Linked DNA regions of Homo sapiens. The protein of the gene in region 2 interacts with the protein of the main gene of each other region in a biochemical or structural test. Each region holds a gene or a part of one and is shown on either strand. Other genes may lie near its edges.

What was found.
Region 1: of the proteins of MAPT (region 2) and GSK3B, one has a biochemical effect on the other in vitro, tested with the Homo sapiens proteins (21 studies listed by BioGRID and IntAct, with this or other methods).
Region 3: of the proteins of MAPT (region 2) and FYN, one has a biochemical effect on the other in vitro, tested with the Homo sapiens proteins (10 studies listed by BioGRID and IntAct, with this or other methods).

The regions. Positions count from the first base shown.
Region 1 is NC_000003.12:120,084,437-120,091,465, reverse strand, and holds part of GSK3B (glycogen synthase kinase-3 beta), read left to right. Parts: intron 1-6,817; exon of another isoform or gene 6,818-6,902; intron 6,903-7,029. UniProt on the Homo sapiens protein: Constitutively active protein kinase that acts as a negative regulator in the hormonal control of glucose homeostasis, Wnt signaling and regulation of transcription factors and microtubules, by phosphorylating and inactivating glycogen synthase (GYS1 or GYS2), EIF2B, CTNNB1/beta-catenin, APC, AXIN1, DPYSL2/CRMP2, JUN, NFATC1/NFATC, MAPT/TAU and MACF1.
Region 2 is NC_000017.11:46,023,525-46,028,834, reverse strand, and holds the end of MAPT (microtubule-associated protein tau), read right to left. Parts: intron 4,880-5,310; coding exon 4,664-4,879; 3' UTR 3,719-4,663; coding exon of another isoform or gene 3,647-3,718; 3' UTR 501-3,646; downstream 1-500. UniProt on the Homo sapiens protein: Promotes microtubule assembly and stability, and might be involved in the establishment and maintenance of neuronal polarity.
Region 3 is NC_000006.12:111,870,442-111,878,132, forward strand, and holds the start of FYN (tyrosine-protein kinase Fyn), read right to left. Parts: upstream 3,012-7,691; 5' UTR 2,527-3,011; intron 1-2,526. UniProt on the Homo sapiens protein: Non-receptor tyrosine-protein kinase that plays a role in many biological processes including regulation of cell growth and survival, cell adhesion, integrin-mediated signaling, cytoskeletal remodeling, cell motility, immune response and axon guidance.

The DNA of each region.
Region 1 (7,029 bases), on a different chromosome or scaffold from region 2:
ATTCTTGGTAATACAGATACTAACTAAGGATGGAGTAACTCTTGTAAAATATATAGATGAAAATGTTTAATTCCGATTACCATATAGGTCAATTTAGAATTTTAAAAGTTGGAGTTTAGTGTTAATTATGTGTTTTTGACAGCTTTGACTTTAAAAGCATTTAAAAGAAAGGGGAGTCTTTAAGCATTTGTTAGGATGCTAGCATTCTAAGGAACCCCTGTTGAAAACAGACATAAGAAATTGTAGTCCTTGCTCTCAAAAGCTTATCCTTTAGTTGTAGAGGGAGGCTATGGGGAAAAAAAAATTAAAACAATAGCGTGATGACTGCAAGATTGTAAAATACAAATTGAATCATTTGTTCAGAGTGGCAAAGAGTAAAGGGGTGAGACTGATGGTTGGGAGAGGAAAGACTTCCTGCGGACAAGGTGTATTAGGACTGATGTTAAAGGAGGTGGTAACTTGAACTGGTAGAAAAGCATGAAAGGTCTAGGTGGAAGGAGTGTACCAAGGAACAATGATGGTGAGTTTTGCATGAGAGACAATAATCAAGTTGACAAATCTGAATTAAAGGGGCCTAAATAAGAACATAAGAACAGATGGAATTTGAGAAATAAGAGAAAGTTAGCTGATGGAGGGCAGAGGGGTTCTGTACAAGTTTGATTGAGATTCAGAAGAGATCTGGATTTATTGTTGGTTGCTGAATAAGACGTAAGATGATTTTTGCAGTTGAATTAGTGAATTATAGTAGAGAGATGCTAGAGCCTTTTTAGGGAGCTAGTAGGGTATGTTGTGAATCATGAGGGAATAAAGTAAAATGTGAAAGTGGGGTGAAAGGAACAGGTTTGAGAGACAGTGTGAATGAAGAACTGGCAGAACTTCATACTGGACTGAAGTGGAATATTTGTGAAGGAGTCAAGAGTTAAAAATAAATTCTGATGTTACTGGCCTGGAAGACTTGACTGCTAAGTTATATTGTTAATTGTAATGGGAAAATTGAGAAAGTGCTGAGGTGAGAGGGTAGGTGAGTTCACTTTCTTAAAATTTAATATACAATAAGTTCCCTTGAAATTCAGACAGCAGTTAGTTACTGGCAATGATATTTGACTTCCTAGTCTATTAATTGCACAGTTTCTAATTTTTCTACACCTAAAGATGTTGGATTTATATTCGGGAGCAGTAAACTAAGGGCTTTTATTTAAATGCTTCTCATCAAAGTCCTAATTTTTTTTTTTTTTATATACAGCTTCAAAAGCCTCACACTTGAAACCTGGTTATAATAGTTTCATGATGGCTTATTTCAGATCAATGAAAATACTTTTGGGACTAAACTGTGACTGTAACATTTTAGATATGTAGCCATTAATCTTTGATATATGCTTAAAACTTGTTTTTTATAAATAATGATTATTACTATTATTTTAAATGCAAAATTTATCTAAGAATAAAGTATTGAGAGCCTTCACTTTGTGAAGACTCCAGAAGAAATTAAAAGTTGATTTTATAACAAGTATTTTTTGCCCTTTTTGTTGAGTTTAGGCATTAATCCCAAATTTAAATCAGTATATTTGAAATACTACTTTTTACTTGCTATAGTGAAACCAATGTTTCATTTTTGTTCACTTCCAAGTTTACATGTAATTAAATAAATGTTTATAAAGTTTTTCTTTAGAATCACATGATATTTTACTCCATAGGGAAAGTAAGGGACTGTTTGTGGCACTTTTGGTTAAAATATTAGTAATCCTTTTGGTATATACAATTGGAGAAAATTTAGCTAGTTGTTTAGGTTTAATACTTAAATATAAGATTTAGAAATATGAAAATAAGTCTGTATCACTTAAGTTGTTTCCTCATATAAAACTTTTTTAGATCAAAATTTCTATTAGCAAAGAGAGAATAATAGTAGCTGCATATTATTCTGCAGTATTACGTCGTATGGTGATTAAAGCCAAAGAGTAGGTAGCAACTTAGAGTTTCCGTATTCCCCTGGGAAGTTTAATCTCTTTATGACATCTAAAAATTAGGTTATTAGAGTTTAGTCCATTTCTTGATAATCCTGTGTTAATGTGGAAAAGAGTTCATGTGTGAGACTGAAAACCAGAACTTTATTTTCAGTCATTTCCCAACCCGACTTCCCCAGAGTTGTTAAAACGTTTAAGATATTTAAGAATTGCATGCTTTCTTGTTGCATGCACCTGTAGAATGCTAATTGTGAAGTGACAGTAAGTCACAGGCAAAAGGAAAAACTTCAAGGGAACCCAGTGATTCACAAATCACCTTATGGCTGATTGGGAACTGCATTTAGAAAATGAGGTGACATCTTCTCATTTCACTGGCAAAGTTCAGCTGAAAATCAGTACTTGCACGCTTTACTGTGTAGCCCTTATATTAGAATTGAGTTGCAGGTGTGAGATAATATTTTGGAGAAACAGCAAGGCTGGGAAAGTCAGAGATTTTATTCCAGCAGCAGAGTCTAAAGAGTGGGAGAGCTCTATTTGTGTGTGCACTTTATGCATAGAGAAGGCTGTGAAACATGCATATGTTGACCCTATTGTCACAGTTCCATACTTTTAAATAAGACCCATGAAGTTGAGACAGGGTTGGAGATGACAGACAGGATGTGAGATTGTGGTGCTTCTTGTGATGCTCCACCCTATAATGGAGAATGGAGGGGCAGAACGCTTGTGTGGGTGAGACAAGAGTGTGTGTTGGTACTAACAGGACCAACCGGGTTCCCCGGATATTGTTCTTCTAAGAACATAATCACCATAAGTAAATTAATTTGTTGGAATGTTTATCATTTTCTAGCTGATTTTTTGTGTGTGTGTGTGGGGTGGTGGTGGTGGAAGGGGAGTTTTCCCCGATTTCAAGAATAAAAGCATTTTCATTGTTCAGAAGAAGAGCATTTTCATTAAAGCGGAGGTTGCACTCTTGGCATTTTATCTTGAGTTATACAAATCATCCTTGGTTATACAAATCAAATTGCTTTTGAAATTTGTTGAGTGTAATGTATAAATGTATATTTATATAAAAACCTATGTGAATAGAACAGCAAGGAAAAACTGAGTAGAGTTAAAGAAGTTTGTTTTCCCTGAGATTTTCTGCCTTTAAATTTATATAAAAAAGGAATATTCCATTTTACGTTATTGAGTTTTCTATTTTTTTAAATGAGCTAATACTCAGTACATAATGGACATTTTTAGTAAATTATTCCAATATACTTGTGTCTGTAATGCATTTGATGTGGTATAAGATTTAGAAACACAATTTAGTTCGGCTGGCACGGTGGCTCACGCCTGTAATCCCAGCACTTTGGGAGGCCGAGGCGGGTGGATCACGAGGTCAGGAGATCAAGACCATCCTGGCCAACGTGGGGAAACCCCGTCTCTACTAAAAATACAAAAATTAGCGGGGGCGTGGTGGTGTGCGTCTGTAGTCCCAGCTACTCAGGAGGCTGAGGCAGGAGAATCGTTTGAACCCATGAGGCGGAGATTGCAGTGAGCTGAGATCGTGCCACTGCACTCCAGCCTGGGCGACAGAGAGAGACTCTGTCTCAAAAAAAAAACAAAACAAAAGACAATTTAGTCGATTTGGGTTCTTAGTTTATAATCCCCCTTACCATTTTTGCTTATATTTTGGGAAGAGAGGTCAACTTCCAAACAATGTGCAGGTTCCAATTTTATAAGTGATTAAATCTTATATTTTTTGTATTGAATAGTTTTCTTAGCATGTTTGGTTTGATCACTTGAAGTAATGATGTATTTGTCTTGAAACTAGTTTTGTCAAACCAACTTTTTATTTCCAGAGTACCATGGTTAACAACAGCACAAAGCCAAGTCCTTAACGTGTTCCCTTAATAACATGGTCTAAGGTTAATTTCTTGATTCTTATTTCAAATCAATTCAGTAATAAAAAGTACACTTTTTTTTTTTTTGAGATGGAGTCTCGCACTGTTTCCTGGGCTGGAGTGCCATGGCGTGATCTGGGCTTACTGCAACCTCTGCCACCCAGGTTCAAGCGATTTTCCTGCCTCAGCCTCCCAAGTAGTTGGGATTACAGGTGCCTGCCACCACACCTGGCTAATTTTTTGTATTTTTAGTAGAGACGGAGTTTCACTGTGTTGGCCAGGCTGGTCTCAAAATCCTGACCTTGTGATCTTCCCACCTCGGCCTCCCAAAGTGCTGGGATTACAGGCGTGAACCACCACATGTGGCCGAACTAAATTGTGTTTCTAATTTAGTTTTCCTGAAGAATAACAGCTATGCATCAATGTGGAATTGTGTTATTTGGAATCTCACCTTATTGGAATTGGCTGGTAATTGACAGTAAACCAGAAGTGCTCCTGAGCAGCTAATATCTGCAGACAAATGGAGTGTAAACTTTGCTCATAGGTTAGTTTTCAGGCTTTTATTAACGGTTCCTTGTTATTATTTAACATATAGTTGTAATTCATTGAGTTGTCTGGGTTTTTTTGAAATCACAGATCAGGGGAATGGATAGGTACTGATTAAGCATTATGCTACTGAAAAGAATGGATGATTAGGGGAAACAAGCATATTGGGATTACTTAGTGTATGTAGGGTATGTAGGTTCATATAGTTCCAGGGTAAATCATTCTGATAATTGTTGAAAATGTTCACCCAGAGAAATTTTTTTTTTTTTTTGGAGACAGGGTCTCGCTGTGTTGCCTATGCCTAGCCTGGAGTGCAGTGGCACAGTCTTGGCTCACTGCAGCCTCTGCCTCCTGGGCTCGGGTGATCTTTTAACCTCAACCTCTGGAGTAACTGGGACTATAGGCATGCGCCAACATGCCTGGCTAGTTTTTGTAGTTTTTATAGAGAGGGGGTTTCGCCATCTTGCCCAGGCTGGTCTTGAACTCCTGGAATCAAGCAATCCTGCCTCAGCCTCCCACAGTGCTGGGATTACAGTCATGAGCCACTGCACCCATCTGAGAATATTAATTCTCTTTTAAAGAGGCAGGAGGCAGAAAAATCTCTTGTGGAAACCTGGGCTTCTGCATAAACTACATAAAATATCTGTAATTTGTTGATCACTGAAGTGATGAAGAGAACTGGGTCACCTCTGTCTGATTCACCATCTTCTAGTTGGATTTCAGCAGTATGGATAAAGGTACTAAAGTCTTTAGTGTGCTAGCCCAGGGTATTGTTTCCAACTCTTTCTTCCATTGTCCATCTACATTTATTAACTCAGCAGCAGAGTTTTATCTGATTTAAGATTTGTTGTCTTACTATTTCTGTTTTTTTTTTTTTCCTCCTTAGTATATATGGAATTGCTGCTTGGATTTTGGCTGGCTTGTACCTTTTGTTTGTGGACTGCTTAGAAGGCACTGCATGGAGTCATTTAAGCTTTCTTATGAATTATGAATAGCTATGTAGAGAGGAACTTTTCTAGATACATTTATGGCCTATGAGAATTGAAAAGCTGGGTATCTTAATTGTTAGGCTGAAGAAAAAGGGTGATAGTGGCAAAGTAGTTTTTCTTTTGGAGGTCTGAGAAATTCTTAGGGGCTTAATTGGCTAATATAACTAGAAAGGTTGGGTGATTTAGGTTTTTTTCCAAGGAAAGGTATCTTATTTAAATGCAACACTGTCTGCTTCCTGTTATTTTATAAAATTAGTTAATACTTTTTTTTTTTTCTCAAGACGGAATGTCACTGTGTCGCCCAGGCTGGGGTGCAGTGGCACAATCTTGGCTCACTGCAACCGCCACCTCGAGGCCTGGTTCAAGGAATTCCCCTGCCTCAGCCTCCTGAGTAGCTGGGATTACAGGCATATGCCACCATTCCCCGCTAATTTTTTTGTATTTGTAGTAGAGATGGGGTTTCACCATGTTGGCCAGACTAGTCCTGAACTCCTGACCTCAGGCAATCTGCTGGCCTCAGCCTCGCAAAGTACAGCAAAATCAGTTAATATTTTTAATTGATTAACACTTTCTTCATGACCTGTGTTGAAGTTATTGAGTTGAGTCAATTGAATTTCTAATGCTAGATTTTGAGTATGTGGTGTGAGCACCTGAAGAGTTGGAGGTACTGGAATTATGTCTGACATCAGACTGATAGTATTTGCAGGGACATTTGCCCTAGTGGAATTCAGGGTTTTCACATTCTATACATTACTTAAATTATGAAGGAAAGGGGGAAGCTTTGAGTTGGTAGACTTTTAATAATAAGATATAATTACATGTATATAGAAGAGCAACGTACTGTATATCATATTCTCATAATATATGGTAATAACGGCAGTAATTATTGAGTGCGGTGTGCCAGATAATTGCATGTTTTATTTACCTATTTTGCTTTAAATTTTAAAAAATGTAATTTACTCACATGGTTCAAAATTTTAAAGATATTCAGTGAAGTCTTCTCTCCTGCTCTGCAACAACCAGTTCTCTTTCCTGGAGACCACTGGCATTACAATTTCTTATGTGTCCTTTCATAGGTATTCTGAATCTTTACGGATTAATGATTTCTATAGTAGACTTGCATTTTGTGTATACATACATAAATTAACAATAGCTTTAGCAGAAGTGTTAGAATTAAAACAAATTTAAATCAGTAACTCTAGAAAATTGCTATTTTTTAACCTATTAAATTAGTAAATACTTATTTCTCTAAATATAAGTTAGTTGGAGAATAAGTGCAAAGATGACAGAGCTCCTCTCGTGGCAATTAGAGGTAAAATGTTAATAGTCTTAACCAATGAACAATTAATAGCACATTTAAAATAGATGTTTATTTCATAATAAAAAGACAGGATAATTTTTTAACTTTCTATTTTTCTAACATCTTAGATGAGAAAACCTGTTCTCTTGAGAGATCAGAGGCGCAGAGTGCGTCAGTGTCAATGAAGCCTGTGCCTTTTACTTCTTTAAGAGCGTACGGTTTCATTCTGCTCCTAAATCAAGCACCCCTTAGTTGTTGAATAAAAATTACTTTTATAAAGGAATATATGATTTAAAGAAATCAAATAGTGCAGAAGGGCTTATGATGGAAAGTAATCTTCTGTCCTC
Region 2 (5,310 bases):
CTTGGTTTAGCAGAAATACTCCTCAATCTATAATAAGGTACCAAAGGAAAGAAGGCAGCTCTGCAAACCTAGCAGGAATCTAAGCCATTCATTAAGCTGATTGGCTTGGTGTTCTGCTCCAGCCCCAGGCCTCTGGACTAAATTTCCAGGGATGAAAGATCCCATATCCTCATCCCCAACCTTCTCAGGTTTGCATACACTGGTGCCGGTCTTGCAAACTGAGTGCTGCATCGTGAGGTCAGCCACAAGGCTTTGTATTGCCCTTTGAATGGGACTAGGATGGTTTGCCAGCATCACAAAGAAGCAACTGCAAATGAGCAAGTCTGAGAACTCTCACCTTCAGGGCCCCAGAGAGAGCTGTTAATCCTGATGTCCAGCTTTTATTAATACTATCATTTCCTGTTCTGAGCTAAATTATCTAAGGGTGCGTGGGAAAGAACTTAAAAAATAGACATTCTATATGACTTTCTTGTCCTTGGAATCCATGAATGGAGACCTTATTTAATCAGAGTAATAACTTTATTTCCAAATTCACTTTTACAGCAACAGTCAGTGTAAATCATTTGTTAAAACACACAATACACTATATAGACATTCACAGACAGAAAGCTAAGCTAAGATGATTTCATGTCCCTCCCCCCACCCTCAGAATTACCGAAGAAATCATGGGACTTGCAAGTGCCAGAAATAGTCCTGCTCAACATGGCAAACTCATGGGGCTAAGTCTATTAGGAGGTGAGGCTCTAGGCCAGTGCCCAGGGTAACCCTTTTCAAAGCTGAAGAGAAATCAGAAGTTTTATGAAGCTGCAGGTCTGTAGATGGGACACGCAGGTGATCACCTCTGCCCTCGCCCCGACCTCGTGGCTTTACTTGGAGAACAAAGATGAGGAGGGTGAAGCGAGTGATCTCAGCTCCAAAAGCACAGGCTGTGTGTCTGGAGCCAGTGTGAGAGGTGGCACAGAGGTGCCAACGGCTTAGAGGGAAGGATGCCAAGGTCTTAGGGAGGCATGATTGTGGGCTTAGGACCCCTGAAAGAGGGCAGCAGGCCAAAGCAACCAGATGTCCATATTCCTACGCCTGCACCTGGCTGGGGAGGGAATGAACTAGCCAGCTGCCTGGGAAAGCCTGTCAGTGGAAAAGAGAAACCCCAAGGGCCTCTAACTCCGTGGCTGCTCCCTCCCTCTAGCAAATGTGGTTGAAATCATGAAAAGGGTTACGAGGCAGTTTAAGTGCTGCACCCCAAGATCTCCCTTTGCCCATGTTAACTATCTTACACATTCCTCCCCCCTCCCCCCATAGCACAACAAGCAATAGCAAACAGGATACAGTCTCACCACTGAAGTCAATTTAAATGGAACTATTGATAAAGTGAGTCAGCAGCTTGAAGGAGCCGGCATACAGTATATCCTATCTAGCCCACCCAAGGACACTGGCTCTGCAGGTGGGAGAAGTGAGGGGAGGGGAGGAGTGCCCAGCCCTGGGGGGATTGTCCTCATTTAAGATCACAAGCCAGCGTGCCTTTTCAATTTATCTGCCAGCACTGATCACCCTAAACCATGATCTTAGGCTGGCCCCAAGAGCCTGCCCCACAAGGGGGAGATCCCAGAGCCTTCCGTATAAGAAGGCCCATGGTGCTGAAGAGCAGGGCACAAGAACTTCAGGAAGAGGAACCGAGGTGCGTGAAGAAATGCAGCCGAAACTGTTGGCAGTAATGAGGGGGGCATATCTCTAACCACCACCAAATCTACCCCACATTTCCTTCTCCTTCTCAGATCCCTTCAACTTAGGAGAATTGCTGGGACTCAGCGAACGGCAGGGAGGCTCTTGGTGGAGAGTTCTGGGCCCAGAGACTTCCTTTCAGGTAAAGCTCTAGCTGCACACGAAGCTGCCAGCCCCAGGGGAGGCCCTGGATTTCTACTGCCAAGTCCCTCAGGGTTGCCTTTAACTGTACCCAAACCAGAAGTGGCAGAATTGGGCCTGAGGCTGCTGAGTTTCTTTAGGCAGCAATGTTTTGCAAAGGCGGCTTCCCTTTTCTCATGGCAGCAGATGGAGTTTGTGCAAGGTCAGCGGGCTGAGGTGCTCTGGTCAAGGCTTTGGGAACAGTGTCTCCTGACTTGTCAAGTCATCCTTCCTCAGGCAGGCAGCTTGGGCCTCTAGAGCAGATCCAGGACAGGCAATTCATCCCAATCCCTGCTGTGGTCGCAGGGCCCTTGGTGGGAGGCTGCGCTGCCCCTCCAGAGGGCGAGCTTGGAGAGGAACCCAGTCTGAGGGGTGGCTGAGGCTCACGGAGCTTCTGGGAGCTGCAGATCCCCCCAGCTGGCAGTGGCTTCCTTTTTCTTGTGATGCAGGAGTTGTAAGCCTCCTTTGGGACTGCCATGAGACTTCGGGCTATGACCAGAGAGAACCATCCTCGCGCCGCAAGCCAGACCAGCCACAAGACCTAGTCTGTGCCCTGACACAGGGAGCCCCAAGGGGAAGTAGGGAAGGGGACATCATCGCTTCAGTCCTAATCCTGTGCTTCAGGCCTTCGTCACAGCTGAACGGCCTCCTTAGCTGCTAGAAGCTGGTCTCTGTTGGGTCCCAGGTGCTGAGGAAAGCCTTTCAAAACTTGGGAGGCCCCAGCAGGGTGGCACCACACAGGCCACACGAGTCCCAGTGTGGGGGTGAGAGACACCTCGTGAGGGTGGGTTAGAAACCTCTTTACAAGCATTTCAAGATACATGCGTCCTTTTTTTTTTTTTTTTTTCTTTTCACTATCATAGTCACTCTGGTGAATCCAAGCATAAACAGACAAATCCAACTACAACTCAACAGGGTGCAGATGGGGAGGGCAGGGCAACATCTATGTATATGTTCAGCTGCTCCAGCAGAACAGACAGCATGGCTTCCAGCTGGGACTGGGGGAAAAGAACCATTTCCAAGGGGGTGTGTTCCCCTTTGTCGGGTGTGGAGGGCTGATACTATGCATGTGGAGCTGAGCAGCGGGCTGGGCTGTCTGGGAGGTTGGCAGCTACAAGCTAGGGTGCAAGTGGGGGACAGCGGGACTGTGGGCCTGCCCTGGGTGCCTTGCCCTTCCATCCTGGTGCCACCACTGACAACCAAGACACCCAGCCTGCTGCTGTGGGCTCAGCACAGGAAGGGGCCAGGCCTTCTCAGGGGAAAGGGCTCTCTCCATGTCAACAAGGCAGAAACACCTAGGGTCACAGCTGAGCAGTGCCCTGGCTCACATCTGTGACGGGAGGAGGAGACAGGGAACCGAATCAGATCATGAGATTCGTGGTGAGGGTCCCAGTTGGATGAGTGGAACTGAGAGTGAGAGGCTGGGGTCCCACTCTTGTGCCTGGACTTTGCCTTCCCTTAATTTCACCCTCAGTATGGAGTAGGTACCTCCTGCAACCAACCAGGGTCATTACTGAGAAGGGGTGGTGAGGCTGGGAATTCGGGACATTGTGACGTGTGATGAGGGGTATAGGCAGTGATTGGGCTCTCACGGCAGACAACAGCACAGCGGCGCAGACGGGGTGACTGCAGTGGCCGTGGGAAGGACAGGGGGCTCGGGACCTGCCTCCCAGACCCCCACACACTCCAGAGATGCCAGTGGCCCAGGCTTGGAAACGGGTGGACGTCTCCCAAGAGGCACAAGTCCTTACAAAGAGAACTGGTTAGCCCTAAAGTCCCAGGTCTGCAAAGTGGCCAAAATCATGGCAGCAGTTCCAACCTTCAGAACTCAATAAAACAGGGTTTCTGTGGAGCAGAGGGAAGCCCCTCAACTCAGGCCCCCTACCCTGCAGGGAGGGAGGAAGAGGCCAGCGCTCTCAAGACATCAAGGTCAGTCTTTTCTAAGGAGGTCATCCACGAAGTGCCACCCTCCTGCCAGCTTGCCTTCTCTTTTTACCCGCTGTCCCTTCTCCCACAGGCTGCCCTGCAGAGGGTGGCACACTGACCCACAGCAGGCCCCCACCCCCGGCCACCAAGGACAGGCGGCCGCTCAGACGCTGCAGGTGGCATAGGCCTTGGCTCTCCCAGCGGCAAGGAGGGGGATGTCTACTCTCCAGCACGTGGCTTCCTCTCCCACTCCCACTTCTTGTGCTTCCTCTCCCCTCTGCCCAGCCCCTGCCTCGGCCTCCCCCGTGGCCTCCCGCCCCACCCCAACCCCCGTCACACTCACACAAGGTTGACATCGTCTGCCTGTGGCTCCACGAACACACCAAGTTTCAAATCCTTTGTTGCTGCCACTGCCTCTGTGACACCCCCACAACAGGGCCAGAGGTGGTTGGCACCCCCAGTCCCTTGAAATCCCCCAGAAGCAGCTTTCAGAGCCTCTCCTTCTCCCTCTTCTACATGGAGGGGGAAGAAAAAAGAATCAAAAGGAATTGCCTGAGGAAATGTTGGATGTGGCCATGTTTTTGAATGTTTTTTTTTAAATATTTTATTACTAGCCCACCCATCAATTTGGAAAGATGAAATTTGCTCTTACTCCCATCACTGATTTTGAAGTCCCGAGCCAAAGCCGAGTGACAAAAGCAGGTTAAGTGATTAACCAATTAACCGAACTGCGAGGAGCAGCTGGGGGCAGAGGGCGGGGGCCGGGTCATTATTCTTTTTTTTTCCACACTCTCTCATTCTCTCCTCTCCACAATTATTGACCGCCCCAGGGGCCTGATCACAAACCCTGCTTGGCCAGGGAGGCAGACACCTCGTCAGCTAGCGTGGCGAGCTGGGGCGAGTCTACCATGTCGATGCTGCCGGTGGAGGAGACATTGCTGAGATGCCGTGGAGACGTGTCCCCAGACACCACTGGCGACTTGTACACGATCTCCGCCCCGTGGTCTGTCTTGGCTTTGGCGTTCTCGCGGAAGGTCAGCTTGTGGGTTTCAATCTGCAAGAAGAGGAAGGGAGGGAGGGTGAGATGAAGTGCCAGAGAAAGACCAGCCCTGCCAACTGCCCTGCCAGGCCTGGCCCAGAGTGCCAGGGACTGTTTTTTGTTTGTTTTTGAGACAGGGTCTTGCTCTATCGCCCAGGCTAGAGTGCGGTGGCACAATCTCACCTCACTGCAGCCTTGACCTCCCAGGCTCAGGTGATTCTCCCACCTCAGCCTCCCGAGTAGCTGGGATTACAGGTGCATGCCACCACACCTGGCTAATTTTTTGTATTTTTAATAGAAACGGGGTTTTGCTATGTTGCCCAGGCTGGTCTTGAACTCCTGGACGCAAGCAATCTGCCCGCCTCAGCCTCTCAGAGTGCTGCCATTACAGGCGTGAGCCACTGCGCCTGGCCAGGAGCTGTTGTTTTTATTGTCTTCCAATTGGT
Region 3 (7,691 bases), on a different chromosome or scaffold from region 2:
TGTTACACCTGCTAACATTAGCCTAATTGATACAGGTGTTGAGCACATACCAAAGACCTAACTCACATTTGTTTAATGTTAAATGAAACAGAATACCCGCTAAGATAAAACTTGGTAGGAAACAAGATAAGTAAGATAAGGTTCCTTTTATCAATGTGCTGACCAATTAATGGTGGAAATAGACTCATGCGAAACATAATGCCTGCTGCCAAAGTTTGAAACCAAAACATGATGATTTGTTTGGAAAGGAGAAGATGGAAACGGCTTCACAGAGGAGATGACATTTGAGCTGGGCCCCAAAGGTTAAAAAGGACTTCGAGCAAGTCAGATGGGGTTGGAGATTCCAGACCCAGGAGAAAGCAGAGTGTGCATTTGCTCACATTCAACCTTATCATTAAGTCTCTTAAACTTGGTCAACAGAGTGTGAGTTTATGTGCTCTGGCTTTCCTTCCTGGGTCTGGCATCAAACAAACGACCCTTTGTTTTTACAGTACACTCATTAACCCTATTGCTTTTTTTATCGTAAAAAGTTCCACGATGAATGTTCTTAAAAAGTGTGTAAGTAAATATTTAATGAATCATAACTCTTTTCTAATAAAATTACTGAAGACTAAACCTACAGTTCTGTTACTTATAAAAATAGTCGAGGAGCCATACTTTTAGGAAAGAACAGGTTCAACTTAAGTTTTGACAATATCGATTAAGCATGTAATAGTCACTGGCTTACAAAACGGAACATTAAGCCCCCAGATTTACATTAACATTTCTTCCTTAAAGGGAACATCAAATGGTTTAGACTTCAGTCAAGATTCTCTACAGCCCCAGTTCATAGCCAAGTGGCCTCAAAGCCTCAGATAGTTAAACCACTTCCTCCAAAAGTCTGTGAGTCCCTTCATCTGAATACAGGGTACCCATGGAGCAGGGACTGGGGAAGAAGACAGTACATAGGGTGGAAAGTATTGCAGTTGCTTGGGTGGTGAGAAAGGAAGTAGGCGTCCCAAGACTACCTTGAAGCAGGCAAGAGGCAGTCTGCAGTGGTCTTCCAAATGCTAACTCTAGACCGTTTTATCCACGTCCCCAGGTATTTACTTCAATAAAAGGGTAAAACAACATCACTGGGCAGACAGGATTTCATTTCAAAAGACTTCAGTACAGTGCCCTCTTAGACTTGAGAGAAGAAGCCATTCAGGCTGCCTCCCTCTTATCAAATAACAATTTAATTCTGATTCAGAAACAAAATTCTTGTGACCCCCACACCAATCTACTCTACCCCAGCTCTTAGTACTTGTTCCCAAAAGGACAGGGGAAAGAACGAGGGGATGGGGAGGCTACCTTAAAAGTAAAGCAACTCTTAAGACTGCTGGGATAACTGTTCCCTTAAATCTAAGAAACACTGCAGCTGCCAGTCAACACTACCGGTCTCTGAACACAGCAAAATGCCGACACCTGCCACCCGGCATCCGGGGGTTCTTTTATTTTTTGGTAAATGTGGCAGGAAAGACTCAGAGAGATCAACTGCTTCATGGGAAAGAAAGGGAAGCCCCAGGGAAGAGAGACAAGAAGCATCGTGCCTATCCTAGGGTACTTTGTGTGTCTCCTCTCTATGCACTGAAAGGGCTCTTTGTGTCACACTCACACTCACACACCCGGCGAGTCTGTGTGATTTATTGGGGGAAGGAGGGGCAAGAAGGGTGATTTTATTATCCCTCTTCCCAGTGAGTCCCAGCACATCTCTGCTGGGCCCAAGCTCGGTGGCCTCCTTCTGGCCCAGTCCCCTCCGCCTGTGGCCGCAGAGATAACAGAGGGGAGGAGCCCAAACAAAAACAGCCATGGATCTAGGGAAGTAGAGAGGAAATCCAGCGAGGGAGCCGGAAAGGAAGGAGAAAAGAGCTGGAGGGAGCAGAGGGGTGGGGGACAGAGGAAGAGGAGGGAAGGCTCCAGCACAGGGGAAAGGGGAAGGGTGGGTGGGTGGTGGCACAGGAAGAGTGAAGGGGAGGATGGGGGAAGTGCAAGGGAGGTGCCAGAAATAGGCAGGAGGATGGGTTGGAGAAGGCGACCGCCGCCGAGGGAGGAGGCCGAGAGGTGGAGGAGTGGGGCAGGGGTTGGGTGGGGAGGGAAGCAGCACGGGGCATCAATTATTAAGTGATTACATCATCCCTGACATTAAAACAACACACACAGCCCCAGTCCCCGCGGGGGGCCCCAAAAGGAGGGCGGGGGCGGAGTCTGGGCCAGCCTCGCCCCCAAGCCAATTCCCATTTTCACCCGGCGCCCGCTTGCGGGCGAGGAAATGGGGTCCCCATCCCCGCGCTGCCTCGGGGCCGCACCCCGCAGGGGTGTCCTCCGGTGCAACCGCGGGAAGACCCCAAGCACCGACTCCCCGGCAGCCCCGCGGAGCGCCCTGGCGGCCAAGGGACCGCAGCACCGGGCCCTGCGGCGGGGGCGGCGTGCGCGGGGGCGCCGGCGGCCGGGCTTCTCCGCAGCATCCCCGAGGCCTCCCGCGACGCATCCCCGCCGCCTGCTTACCTGCGCGGCGCTGAGGCTCCGGAGCCCACTCACATGGTCCTCTCCCCGCCCTCCTCCGGCGCGGCCGAGGCGGCTCCGGGGGGTCCCCGGCGGGCCCGGGAGCCGGTGGGCCTTCCGAGAGCACCGAGGGGGCGGCGCCGGGGTGTCCCCGGCCCGGCGGCCGAATCCCTCCCTGGCGCGGGCGGCGGCCGCCGGGCGGTGCGGCGCGGGCGGCGGCTTTGTGTGCGCCCGGGCGGTCCTCGGTGCGCTGGGAGAAGCGCGGCGCGCCCGGGCGGGAGAGGACGCGCCGCTCGCACAACAACCTCGCCTCTACTCTCGCCGCCGGGCGGCGGGCGGGTCTCGAAGGCCTTCGGCTCGCGGCGACCCCTCCTCCTCGCCCGCGGCAGCCCCCTCCTCGCCGGCTCCGCTCCTGACAGATGGCGCAACTGCAACGACGCGCCGCCGCCACCAGCGCGGCTGCTCGCTGCTACTCTTGCTGATGCTCTGCCCCTCCAGCTCCGGAGGGGAGCGAGGAGGGGGCGGGGCGCGCCTCGAGAGTGACAGGCCCGGCTGCCCTATCAAAGAGCCCCTTGGGAGCTGCGAGCCGCAACCATTGGCGCCTGGGGCGTGGGCGGGACGGCAGTAGGTGGGGCCGCCGAGTGGGTTGAGCGTTACTGTGGCAGCGGGCATCCCAGGGTGCGTGCGGTGCAGGGTGTGCAAGAAAATGCGAGGTTGGAGGAGGAGGTCTGTGTGTTTTTAAGGATTGTGTGGAGTTGTGAGGTGGCGGAGTAGGGCGGGAGAAAGAGCGGAGAGTGTGAACTGCAGTTTCCGCTTTGCGGAAGGTTGCAGCTGCTGCTGCAGATTGGCACCTGCCATTCCCCCAAAACCATGGGAAACTGCCTCGAGACAGGGCTATCTTGCCTTTCTGGTGTCTTTTCATTTGAGGGTGAGAGGATGAAATGGAAAATTGGGCGGTGATAGCAGCGTTTTCTTTGATCAAACTGAAAAGAGTACGGAGCAAAGTAGAATCCTGTCCTGAAACGTGGAAACGCACAACAAATAACAATGAGGAGGAGAAGGAGATTAGGATCATTTTATCAGTCCCCTATTTCTGCGGACACTCATTTATATTTTTTTTCTAGCAAAAGTCTGGAGGAAGTATTACTGAAATAGGGGGAGGGGCCAAGCGGCGACTAAGGAACCTGAAATGACAGAGATTTGTTCGTACATTCCCCGCCCCACCCCCAAAAAACCTCGTTTAATTGTAGTCATTGGTTGTCTTTGGTTTCTCATAACATTCAAACTTCTCATGTTTTTTTCCCCTTCACTGAATCTGAGCTTTTGCTCATATTTCCCTTGATGAAATAATTGCCGGTTTAGTATACAGTTGGGAGTGCATCGGTCTTTATTTCCTATCCAGCTTTTCTATGGCAGGATGTAACTTCATAAAAAGAAACACTTTGGCTTCCTGATTTTCTTTATAGGTAATTCCTGTTTACTGAAAGTTCTGCTTTAAGGCATACTCAGAATCGCTCTCCTTAATGATTTTGGCAAGAACCCTACCTTCCCCCTCAGCAAATCTAATGTTCTAAGAAATTATAAGTGAATCAGCTTCTGCTTCTGTGCTCAAAATCTATAATATTGCCTTTCCGGCCCACTACTTGTTTTTACTGTAGTTTAAAAAAATCTGTCCCTTTTGCTGACTTTTTTCTTTTTGTACACACTACTTTTTAAGAAAAGTTGCTAACATTTATTAAATGATCTGCATCCTATGGAGGAGGAAACTGAGGAAAAGAAAAGTTAAGTAACTAACTCAAGGTGACAGTATACAGAGGTTACTGGATTTTTTTCCTTTTCCTTAAACAAAATGACAAATTAAACCATGTTTAAATTGTGTCTGGAAATTCCATAATCCCAAGAAATGGAACCATAGCTAGGACTAGGATATTTCCATACAAGAGAAAGCCAGCTTCATTTAGCCAAGAATTGCTTATCTCAAGAGCAGAGGCTCTTCGTCCTCAGGGCTAGTCCGCAATGGCTGCTCTGGGTTTATTTGGATTGGGATGCAGAGGCAGTTGGGTAGAGCAATGGTTCTCAAACTTTGACATGTATCAGAAATAACTGAAGGGGCTTGCTTAAACATGAATTGCTGTGTTTAACCACCTGAGGTTCTGATTTAGGGGGTTTGGGATGGTGCCCAAGAATTTGCACATTTAGCAAGTTCCCAGGTGATGTTGATACAGCCAATCTGGAGACAGCACCTTGAGGACCATAGTTCTAGAATTGGGCTGTCCGAGGAGGTAGCCACTAGCCACATGACTGTTAAGTACTTGAAATGTACTTCAGTATTGGAAATTTGGCTACTGCAAATTAGGATGTGCTGTAAATGTAAAAGATGTATTAGATATTTCAGATCAAGCATGAAAAATGGAATGTAAAGTATCCCATTTTAATATTGATTACATGTTAAAATGATAGTCTAAATGTACTGTGCTAAATAAAACATTATTAGAGTTAATTAAATTGTTTCTTTTATTTTTTAAATGCGTCTACTAGAAAATTTTAAATAACCTATGTGGCTCAAGTTATATCTCTATCGGGCAGCACTGGTCTGGAGTTGTTTCTGATTCCAGCTCCACAGTTCACTGTTGGGAGCGCTTTGATGAAGCAAGTCGCTTATCCTTTTTGAACCTTAGTGTCCTCATACGTAAAATGGGAAAAATAGTAAAACTGTTCTCAAACTATTCCGGACAGACTAAGTGTCATATGCTCTCAAGAAAAAAACACTCTTAGGCTATATATCTCCTTGAAATCTCATGTTTAGTTCAATCTATCTTACGCTAAATCTGGAAATCTGGAGTAGGTGGGATAAGTCCTCTCTCTCTCTCTCTCTCTCTCTCTCCCTCTCTCCTCCTCTCTCTCTGTTTCTTCACGAGAAGTCACTTCTTAGTGTCTGCAACTGTAATAGCTTCTTGATCTAATTAGTGGACAAAGAGACAATGTGATTAAAATGACAGATTAACCTGCTCCCATCAAGACTTCATCCTGTTTTTTGTAATTCTTTGCTTACCTACTTTTTTATCTGTTGCCCGTCTTAAATGTAGCTTTAAATGGATTTGGACTCCTCAGGAGGATTTGCTAATGGTCTGAACAAGTGAATAGAGCACTGCAAAAGATTTGTATACTATTCCCGTTTTGATCTTTTCTGCCAATCTCTACCAAGAACTTGATTAAAGATCTGAGACGCTGTCCCTGGCCTACCCAAGGTAAGTAATATTGTCTTCCACAACCACCAGTTTTGTTTTCTTATGAGTAGCTTCTATTATACAAATTAGAATGTAGTCATTGTTCTAGAACTTCTCTTTGATTTTATTGATATTGTTTATATATTTTGTATTTTTCTACTTGTTTTACCTTAAAGTTTCCTCTTTCTATTCTGGCTTTCTTGAACTTGTCTCATCTGAATCTTATATCTTGCTTTTAAAGTAACTTTTTTTTCTTATTTTTATTAGCTAAAACATTTTCTTGTCTTATTATTTTATTTTAGTTTTAATCTTCTCTTAAATGTCAACTCAACAACAACACATATGGCAAGGGTAAAAACCCTCAATGTAGAGTTTTTACAAATCAACAAGAAAATAAAGATGAACGTTCGAACTGAAAAATATGTGCAACAGAAACAAAACCCAAAATGGCCAGTAAATGTGATAGGAGGTTCAACAGGAAAATGGATATCCATACCCTACTAGTGGAATTTTTAATTGGTACAACATTGCTGGAAGGCAGTTTAATAGCATTTGTGAAAAGCCTTTTAAAAAAATGTATACATTTGACTTAGCAATTTTACTTCTGGGAAAGAATGGAACAAATTTGCAAATACACAAACACAAGCGCACATATCATGGGAATAATTGGAACATTGTTTATAATAGTGAAACACTGAGAAAAGTTCATTGATAAGGGATTTGGTGTGTAAATTATGTTATATCTATAATAGAATACTATATAGCCATAAAATTATAACATTGCCATTTATTTATTTATTTGTGTGGAAAGATGTTCACAACAAATTAAAATTAAGAAGAGCTAATAAATTAGTATTGTGTTTGTATGTGTACATATGTATGTTTATATATATGTATTAATACACATATATTTCCATTATTTTTAAACTTATTTATATGTGTAAATTTTCATAGAAAGCAATACATACACAAAAATTTTAATGATCATTTCCTCCAAGTAATCATATTTTAGGTCATTGTTATTTTATTTTTTATCTTTTTCTTAATTTCCTCAACTTTTTACATTGGGCATTTATTATGTTATTAGAAAAAACAATAAAAACTTATTTTAAACTTGTACCTTTTTTTGCTACTTTAATTCTCGTTTTTCTTCCTCTGCCTCCTGTCTGCTGTTTTTCCTCCCTTTTGAAGGCATATTGCCCCAGGGTAGTGTTCAGGAATCAAGACCAGGACCAGAGGGAGGCCTTCTGCTTCCATCCACCCACAGACACCCTTCTTGTTTCTGGTGGGTCTTCTGGGACTTGCAGGAATGATTCTTATAAAACTTCACTTTGAGGCTAGGCATGATAGCTCGTGCCTGTAATCCCCGTGCTTTGGGAGGCTGAGGCCAGAGGACTGCTTGAGCCCAGGAGTTTGAGACCAACCTGGACAGCACAGCAAGACCCCATCTCTACAAAAAAAATAAATGCCAGGTGTGGTGGTGTACACCTGCCGTCTCATCTACTTGGGAGGCTGAGATGGGAAGATTGCTTGAGCCTGGGAGGTCAAAGCTGCAGTGAGCTCTAATTGCACTGCTGTAACAGAGTGAGACCCTGTCTCAAAACAAAACAAAATGAAAAAAACAAGCAAAAAAACCCCTTCACTCTTAGAGTGGGACACCACTGCTAAAGTGGCCCCAGGGCTAACCTGTCTGTACTTGGCATACCTGGTTCACTGTTTACCTCTTTCTTCTGATGCCTCATATCAAGTCCATACATAAAGAGTTACATATTTTTATATACACAATCTTTAGAACACAGCCAATGGATTTAGGGCATTTTGGGTCCACAGCTTGCCATGAGCCAGCAGGAGATGGTCCTGGAAAAATCTCATGTGGGAAGGACATTCCATACAACACCCCAGCCTGAACTCAGAAAGGAGCGTAGGTGATGTTAAACCTGC